Regions from separate parts of the Homo sapiens genome. Here region 1 is linked to region 2. The links come from fine-mapping of genetic effects on gene expression. Tissue or cell type: left ventricle. Region 2 holds a variant in brackets; the other region holds the start of a gene. All regions are shown on one strand. Distances are between the middles of the regions.

Region 1 (4,408 bases), 45 kb after region 2:
TTTCTCTGCATCCTTGCCAGCATTCATTAGTTTTTATTTTTTGATAATAGGGGCTGAGATCATACCTCGTTGTGGTTTTGATTTGCATTTCTCTGTTGATTAGTGATGTTGAACATTTTTTTCATATACTTGTTGGCCATTTGTGTGTCTTTTAAGTTTTTTAAGGTCTAGAGTATAAAATTTATCTCTGCACTTTAAAAAAATACTGCTTATTCTTAGACAACCCATTGCAACATGGTCTCTACCCTGACCATTCTACTGTAGTCCGCTGAACCTATTTGATTCTGGGTTCCCGGTTGCTAAATTGGGGCCTTTCTCTCAGTCCTCCTGTTGAATTTCTTGCTAAGGAAACAAATGTTTTTTGTTACCAGAGTTTTTGATTTAATTGCAAAAAAAATTAGTAATTGATACACATAGGTCTTGAAACTTCTTCCCTTTCCTCGCTTCTGAACCCAGGAACTCTCCAAGAGCACCAGTTCATTTTGAAATTCTCTTCTTACGGCAGACAGGGATTCAGGCAGTCCAGGAAAGTCTGCTAGTTGAGAGAAACTTGAGCAGTTCCTCTCAACTAGCAGAGTTCCTCTAAACTTATAAAGAAATTGCCACTACTTCTCCTGTGTGCCCTTTTTTCACACAGGAGTAGTGGCAATTTCTTTGTAAGTTGAGCATTGTCTAAATAGTTCTAAAAAGAAGATGCGGAACTCACATACCAGTTCAAGAATCTTTCATCTGACGAGAAGGTAAAGCTGAAAATCCAGACACTGTGTGGAGTAATGGCAGTGGGTAATTACCCAAATATTTATATTTTCAACATTTAAAAATTTTTTTCTACAGCTATTGTTGGGAGAAACAGCTGAGTCATTTGTTCATGTTGACTAGGTTTTATTTGTAGAATAACTTACATTATTTTCGAGTTGGCATGTTGTCATCATTTCCTATTCTGTTTCCAGGGTCAGTTCTGCCTTCCTAAAAATGTTTCTGACACTTCTATGTTTGTTTAAATGAATTTTTTCATCACAACAATTGATTACAGAAGTCAGGATATGCCAGACCTTGACTGCCTATTCATGAGAGAGAGAAGTTATAGGGCCAGATGATGTCAGTTATCAGATGTTAGAGCCAGCCTGGTAAGACATGAGTTGGGAGAGAATTGAAGATCAGAGGAGTCCCATATGAAAGGTGAAACCAGAGTAAATGCAGAAAAGAAAACTGTAAACATTGATGGTCATGTATGGAGGTGCAATGCCTAGATTCACATTCGATAAAACTGTCCCTGGCCCAGTCCCTCAGATGGAAGATGAGCAGCTCCTGACCCCTGGATAGGATTAAAATTGTTTTGCAAATTTTAATAATTTCATAAACTTCTCTGAGATGACAATCCTCATTTTTGAATCTTCTCTGTTTTTTTGAAGCCCTATGCCTGGAGCATGGTGCTGGCTTCTGATGGGCAGGCATCTTTCTCTTCATTTTACATCCACAAATAAGTTAAGTGCCCTTTGGTGCAAAATCATGACAGAGTTGGGAATCTAGTAGGTTCCTGAGACCTCTGGGTTGGGTACTCACCATTCAAATGTAGTGGTTGGGAAACACTGCTTCCTAATGCTGCATGTGCAGAAGTTATTTTCTGAAAAAGAAATTTGAGGCTGTGCTAAGAAGGAGACACATAAATTCAATTTCTCTTTTCTCCTCAGTCCCTCCACCTTCCCTATACCAGTTGCAATCCTATTACCAATTGTCTGGTGGTAGGGGGCATCCAACACTAAGAAAAAATGTCATTAAAGAAAATAGTAGCCTTTAAAGGGCTTTTTAGTGATTTTCAATGAGTTTAACTGTTATCCTCAGGCTTTTGGACAACATTATCTATTCCTATTGAAAATAGATTGCACTTTTTGTTTTTAAGCTGAACGTGCCTAGTGCAAGGAAACTACTAAGATCAGTCTTGATATACCAAATTGAGGACATTATTGTAAAATTCATACTTACAGGGCAATTTGGATACTTATAAGGACCAAAGGAAGGTATAGGAAAAGGAAAAGGAAAAAAAAAAGAGGAAGTAAATGAGACCTGAGAAAAAGAAAAGGCTCTATGAGGTCATGATGAATAGAACAATGGCTCATTATTACATATGGAAAAGAGTGACCTTGCTGAGACTCTGAGAGGCCACCTATGCCGTAAGACACCCTCCACCACCAATGAGCTCTAGGTGCTCAAGGAAGATAAACATAACTGCATAAGTCTCATGAGGGGTGGGAAAAAACAAACAGAAAAACCCCACTGTTGTCTGGGTTCAAAACAGCTTTACTCTGAGATAATCTTATAAAATTGTACAGGAAAAGGGAAAGCAGTTCTCTATTAACTGGAGAGAATGATAAGCCACACACATCCCAGGGCTAACAGTCAATGATCCCAAATGAGCACCTGTAGGGGGACAGAGGCCCGAGACCAGCATCACTGGAAGATCCCAGACCTGAGCTGTAAGGAGTTGCTTTCGTGGTGTTTGGTGAACTCTTCCCTTACTAATCCCTCCCTTGGAGACTGAAAAAGTGATTTTTATAAGAGGTCCAATCCTGATGAGGGTTAGGGGCCATTTAAATGGTACATGTGGGTACTTCTGGAACTTTTTCAACTATTTGGAGAGAGAAGGCCCTATATAAAAAGGCTGAGACCTTTTGCTCCTCAGTTGAGAACTTAAAACACTGAGATTGAAGTAATTATATACATAACTCTGCTATATTCCCCACATACGCAGCCTGAATCCTAAGCATACTACAGATGATTTTGCTGCACACTAAAGTGTGGTAATCATTAGCTAGGGTTGATCAAGCCCAACTTGATGATCTCTGAGCATTGCTTTCTCACTTGTTACTTTTCAAGAATTGTTAAAAGAACCTGCTCACCTCTTATTTATAGAAGCAGGGGCCATTAGAATAGGGAGCTTAGAGATCATCTAGTCCAATAACGTTAGTTTACAGGCGATACTACCAAGGTTCATAGAACTCAATGACCTACTCCAAGTTTGCATGTTAGAGTGGAAGACAGAAAAGAATAGGTTCAAGTGGAAGTAATGGTGCATTCCCAGCATGTGATAAGAATATAATTAGTCTTGGCTCTACCTACTAGGTGGATCTTGAGCCACTGATTTTTCTATTATTTTGTCCTACCACTGAACCTCAATCTCTCTTTAAAATAATTTCAATATTTATTTTAGATTCAAGGGGTATATGTGCAGGATTGTTACCTGGGTATATTGTGTGATGCTGAGGTTTGGGGTGTGAGTGATTCCGTCAATCAAATAGTGAGCATCCAATAGTTATTCAACCCTTTTCTGCCTCCTTCCTTCCCCTTTAGCAGCCTCCAGTTTCTTTTGTTGCCATATTTATGTCCACGAATACCCAATGTTTAGCTCCTTCTTATAAGTGAAAACATGTGGGATTTGGTTTTCTAGTCCTGTGATAATTCACTTAGGATAATGGCTTTCAGCTGCATTCATGTCACTGCAGAGGACATGATTTCACTCTTTTTTATGGCTGCATGGTATTCTGTGATGTACGTGTGCCACCTTTTCTTTATCCAGTCCACCACTGATGGATACCTAGGTTGATTTCATATCCTTGCTATTGTGAATAGTACTGCAATGAACATCCAAGTGTATGTAACTTTATGGTAGAATGACTTATTTTATTTTGAATATATACCCAGTAATTGGGTTGCTGGGTTAAATGGCAGTTCTTCTTTAAATTCTTTGAGAAATCTTCAAACTGTGGCTGAACAAATTTACATTCCTACCAGCAGTGTTTAAGTGTTCCCTTTTTCCCAGCAACCTTACCAGCACCTGTTATTTTTTGACCTTTTAATAATAGCCATTCTGACTAGTGTGAGATGGTATCTCATTGTGGTTTTGATTTGCATTTCTCTGATGATTAGTGATGTTGAATATTTTTCCATATGTTTGTTGGCTAATATGTATGTCTTCTTTTGAGAAGTGTCTGTGCATATCTTTGCCCATTTTTAAAAATGGGGTTATTTGACTTTTTCTTGTTCAATTGTTTAAGTTCCTCTCTCATTCTGTAGGTTTTCTTTTACCCTGTTGATAGTTTCTTTTGCTGTTCAAAAGCTTTTTAGTTTAATTAGGTCCCACTTACTAAATTTTGCTTTCAAAGACTTAGTCATAAATTATTTCCCAAGGCCAATGTTCAGAAGGGTGTTTCCTAGGTTTTTTTTTTTTTTCTGGGATTCTTATAGTTTGAGGTCTTACATTTAAATCTTTAATCCATCTTGAGTTAATTTTTGTATCTGGTGAAAGACAAGTGTCTAATTTCATTTTTCTGCATATGGTTAATGACCTATCTCTGCACCATTTATGGAATAGGGTGTCCTTTCTGCATCTTTGTGAAAGATCAGATGGTTG
Region 2 (4,408 bases):
AAAGATATTCCCACCCAAGGCGACAAGTCCAGCACAGGCCGTGAGGACTCTTTATCTCTTGGTAAGGAAGTATTTCAGGCCCAAGGCCCCATTCCTATCAGCTGAGAGGATGGCATGCTACTGACTTTCCTAACAGTGACCTTGCTTGTAGGATCCTGTGACTGTCACTGCCACAACCTAGTTTCAGATTTCCTCTTAGAAATGAAGATCTGCCCACATTCAAAGCTGTCATTATCAAAGCCATTTCTCTGAACTCTTCTGAAGAATAATCTTGGAACATCTGATATGTAATGTCTTTTAAATTACTATGGAAAAAAGACAGTCCTGTTTAGATTGAATTTTCCAGATTCATTAGCTACTGGGCTAGGTCTTACTGATACCCACTTTTGTTGACATACTAGAACTTTGTAAAAAATTGGTCTTCTAAACTGAAAACCTTGGAAACTTTTAAACATTGTCCTGAGTAGTTATTTTAGAATTTTGTATATTTGTATGTCTTTTTACGTTGCCTTTATATTAATATATGCCAGAGGTGCTGGGTATTTTATTCCTTGTCAGCATCTGTATTTGTGTACTGTGGAGAGTTCCCATGGTAATAATAAAAAGATAATTTTATTAAATACCAATTTATCCCTTGACAGTTTCAATGCTACTCAGAACAAGATAGGTTTTGTAAGTTCTGGTTTCACAGACTTGTAAGTTTCAACATTTTCTGTATTGTAGAAATCAGTATCCCTGAACGCATAATGATAATTAAAATGCCTTAGAAATCCAGTATAACCAAGAATATCCTGGCATGAAGTATTAGGTCATCAATTTGTGAGGAACATTGAGAGGAATTGAGATGGAATTAGGTATAATCACTCAAACAACAGTAGGACAGGAGGACTTGGAGAGAGAGTTTGTCATTGTATCTGTGACTGGGGATATTTTGGTTTGCTTGCCATGTCAGTGCCTTATTCATCAGGGTAAATATTTTGCCCCATCTAATTATTCTTGGGCTGCTATATCCTTGCTCCCCAGATGTAAATCCCAGGCCGTATCTGGAAAAGACTGAAGTAACAACAAAGTCTGCTTTAGTTGCAGGCATGCTGAATGTTGGCCACAATAGACAGCCTCGTTGAATGAACATTTAGGACATAGTGAGACAATGGGACACATGAAAAGATTTATCTGGCCAACCACTTATTCCCTTGCCAGTGAATCTCCAGTAAAAAATGTGTCTTGTGTGACTCTAAAGTAACATGCAGTCTTTTCATGAGTTTATAGACACTTTTAAATAGAACAATGAGAGAAGAGGGTATTTTACCTTGTTTCAAGATGGGAAGATCTGGGGTTAAGGGTGGTCAGAACATACTTTTGAAGTAGGTTTACCAAAGAGGACTTCCATTCAATTCAGAAAGGAACTGAGTATGTGCAGGAAGAGAAGCAGAGTTTGAGAGAGGCTTCGGAATTGAGAGAACTGGAGGTATGCCTTCCATGGGAACTTCAGAAAGATAGCTCACATTTTTATTAGGGAGTATTCAGACCTAAGTTCCAAAAACAATTAATATGTTCTCCCTGCTTTTTAATTTGTCAAAGAGACTCTAAAATTTAATTCCTTAATTATTAGGTCTCAAAAACGTTTATTCCTATAGACCATAATAGTTGCCAATTAAAGTGGAATTAATTTTCAAATATTAAAATGCATTTGAAACTATTCATATTAATTCTGAAGCAACAAAAGTAAAACAGGACAAGTCATTGAAGAAAAAAATGTACGATACCTCTTACTGCATGCTAAATAAAGCAAATTTAAAATTTGACATTAACTAGACTTTTATTCTAGATAGAGGGACCACATCTGTTCTCTCCTAACACCCCATGAAAATCCATCTCAAAATGTACAAGTATATATTTTTTAATTGCAGCAGCTCTGATAAGCAGGATAAGCTCTGATAAGCAGGAAAGACTACGTGCTGGACTTGAGAATTTCCAAATCCTGCCACATCAGTGGTGTTGGATTGAGAAGCACAGTCATGGATTCCATTTGTTCCACCCTGTGGTGTGGAAAAGTACACATCATCTGGCAGAGGATATGAAAAAGCTCTCTGTTACCAACACAGCCTGTTGCTAGCTCTCAGATTCCAACCAGAAAGTCAGGCAGCCACATTCCTTTCTGCATGAGGATAACATTTTATAGTCAGCCAGATCAGAGTTCTTCTCCTCTTTTTTGCCTTCTCTTTTCATTCTTGATTAGAGACTACATTAGAGACTACTCCTAATTAGAAACTTGTATGTTTTAGTAGAAACCATGCCAGATGTGTGATGCAGTTCAGTGGAATGTTAGAGAGCAACTGATGGTGGCACTTTGAATTGGGATTGTAAGCGTGACAGATGGGGGCTGAGGCAAGAAGAGCCTAGAAGCATG[A/G]GTCAGTGAGTATGCATGAATGTGGGAGGGTTTGTTGGGGGCATCACATCTTGTCTTTGTCAAAGAGGTAATTGAAGACTATGCCTAAGTTTTTAACAAGGTCAAGAGATTCTGGCAGTGAGGGAAGGAGGTTTATTTATTTATCTAGAAAATATTAATTGAGCATCTACTGTGTGGCAGATGCTGTTTTGGTGATAAAGAAATATGAGTAGAGAAGAGAGACCAGGGCCTGGTTCTAGTGGGGAAGGGGAGGGACAAAAATAAGTAAACCATTGAAAAATAGAATCTTTGATCATCATCAGTACGATGAAGAAAATAAGATGGGGTTGTGCGGCAGAGTGATGAGGGCTCTTCAGACCACTCCATTGTAGCTACAACATAGACTGAGCCCAAGTCTGAAGAACTTGTTCAGAAGAAACCAGAAGAAACAAAGTTTCTGTCATTCCTTTTCTTGTTTGATTCTCACCATACCCTATTATGCAGGTACTATTACTATCTTGTTCTACAGTTGGAAAAAAGCTAAGATAATAAATGGGCAAAGATGAATTCTTAAGAGAAATAATACAAATAATTAATAAATACCAGAAACATGTTAAAATTCATGAGTAATAAATGCACTAATAATTAAAGGAATGAAATTTAAAATTATAATTAGATATAATTTTAAATTGTTCAAATTTGCAAAGATAAAAAATAAGACCAAATTATTGCAAGTGATGGTGGTGTAAAATGTAGCCCCCTCATTTGCTTCTGAGGAGAAGGTTAATTGGTATAACTTTTCAGTAAACAGTCTTACCTGTAGGAATAAATACCAAGGAAATAACCAGAAAAGCAAATAAAGATTCATATGGCAGATATTAACTGCAGTACTATGTATAAAATCCCCAACTGGAAACTACCTACATGTTTGACAGCAGGGAAATACTTTCATAGGTACAACCATTACATAGTCATTAAAGATGATGTTCATGAAGATTTATTAACAGCATGGGGAAATGATTATTAAAATATATATTTTTAAGTAGGATAGAAGTTGTATATGTGGCACGGTGAAGTTTGGTAACAGAACCACCTGAGGTCTAAGTGGACACATGACTGTTCAATTAGAAATTACATTTCACAGTTTCTCTTAGCAAGGTGTGGCCACACAATCAAGTTCTGGCCAATGGCATGTGAGCAGAAATAACGTCCAAAATTCTAGATCATGTTCCCAAAAGGAAGCTGCTTACCTTCCACATCCTTTTTCCCTTTTCCCATAGGCTGATGGATAAATGTGGCAGTGGGGTAAGCTGGTTTAGACCATGACAAGAACAACACTGTAAGAAATGACAAAACAAGATAGAAGGAGCTTTGATCCCTGGGTGATCTTGTGGAGTACAGTGTGTACCTGCTGAACCTATCGATTGAACTTTAATGAGAGAAATAACCTTTTATCTAGTTTTCAGCTATTGTGATTTGGTCTCTGTTTAAACAGCTGAAATAATATCCTAATGAATACAGATAGCACCTCTGCAAATTATATACAACATTTTCCTTCTTTATTATTATGATTATTTAATACTTAAAGACACTAACGGTCTTAGTGATAAAGCTAAGGGGCAAGTTCTGATAGATTTGTTAATGAAAGCAGAATGCTTGACATTATGCCTCTGCCATTCGGGCAATCATATTTGCATATGTTTCAGAAAAGCACTTATATATAACTCTAATAATAACAGAGCCAGGTACAAATATAAAAAGGTGAAAGCTTTGATTAGTTTCTATAAGGTTTTAACTTGATCTCAGACCTGAGGAATATTAATGGCTATTTTTGTTTTCTGCTCTTGCCCATTGCTCCCATAATAAGCAATTGTATGCTCATTGATTTATTTGACTTTGTCAGAGATTTATCTCCATAGACTGATAAATTTTCCCAATTTGGGAGAAAGGGGAGCTTCCTGTACCATGAGTGACTAATAGGCAAGAAAGAGGGACAGAGAGGAGAGAGAAACATACCTT

Alleles and levels. Alleles are on the strand shown, and positions count from the first base shown. SD is a standard deviation of normalised expression in the study named.
For the expression in left ventricle of the gene that starts at base 2,059 in region 1, allele A in region 2 goes with a higher level than allele G (moderate effect, 0.66 SD a copy in GTEx).

The links.
Region 1: it holds the start of LINC02286, and the variant in region 2 is fine-mapped to the expression of LINC02286 in left ventricle (GTEx, PIP above 0.99).

The regions. Positions count from the first base shown.
Region 1 is chr14:25,154,205-25,158,612 of GRCh38, forward strand. It overlaps LINC02286 (long intergenic non-protein coding RNA 2286), which reads right to left and starts at 2,059. Exons shown (of 5, transcript NR_184204.1): 1 at 1,984-2,059; 2 at 1,564-1,624.
Region 2 is chr14:25,109,133-25,113,540 of GRCh38, forward strand. No RefSeq gene overlaps it. Among named protein-coding and RNA genes, the nearest start is that of LINC02286, 45 kb to the right of the region's middle. The variant A/G (reference allele first, on the strand shown) is at 2,411.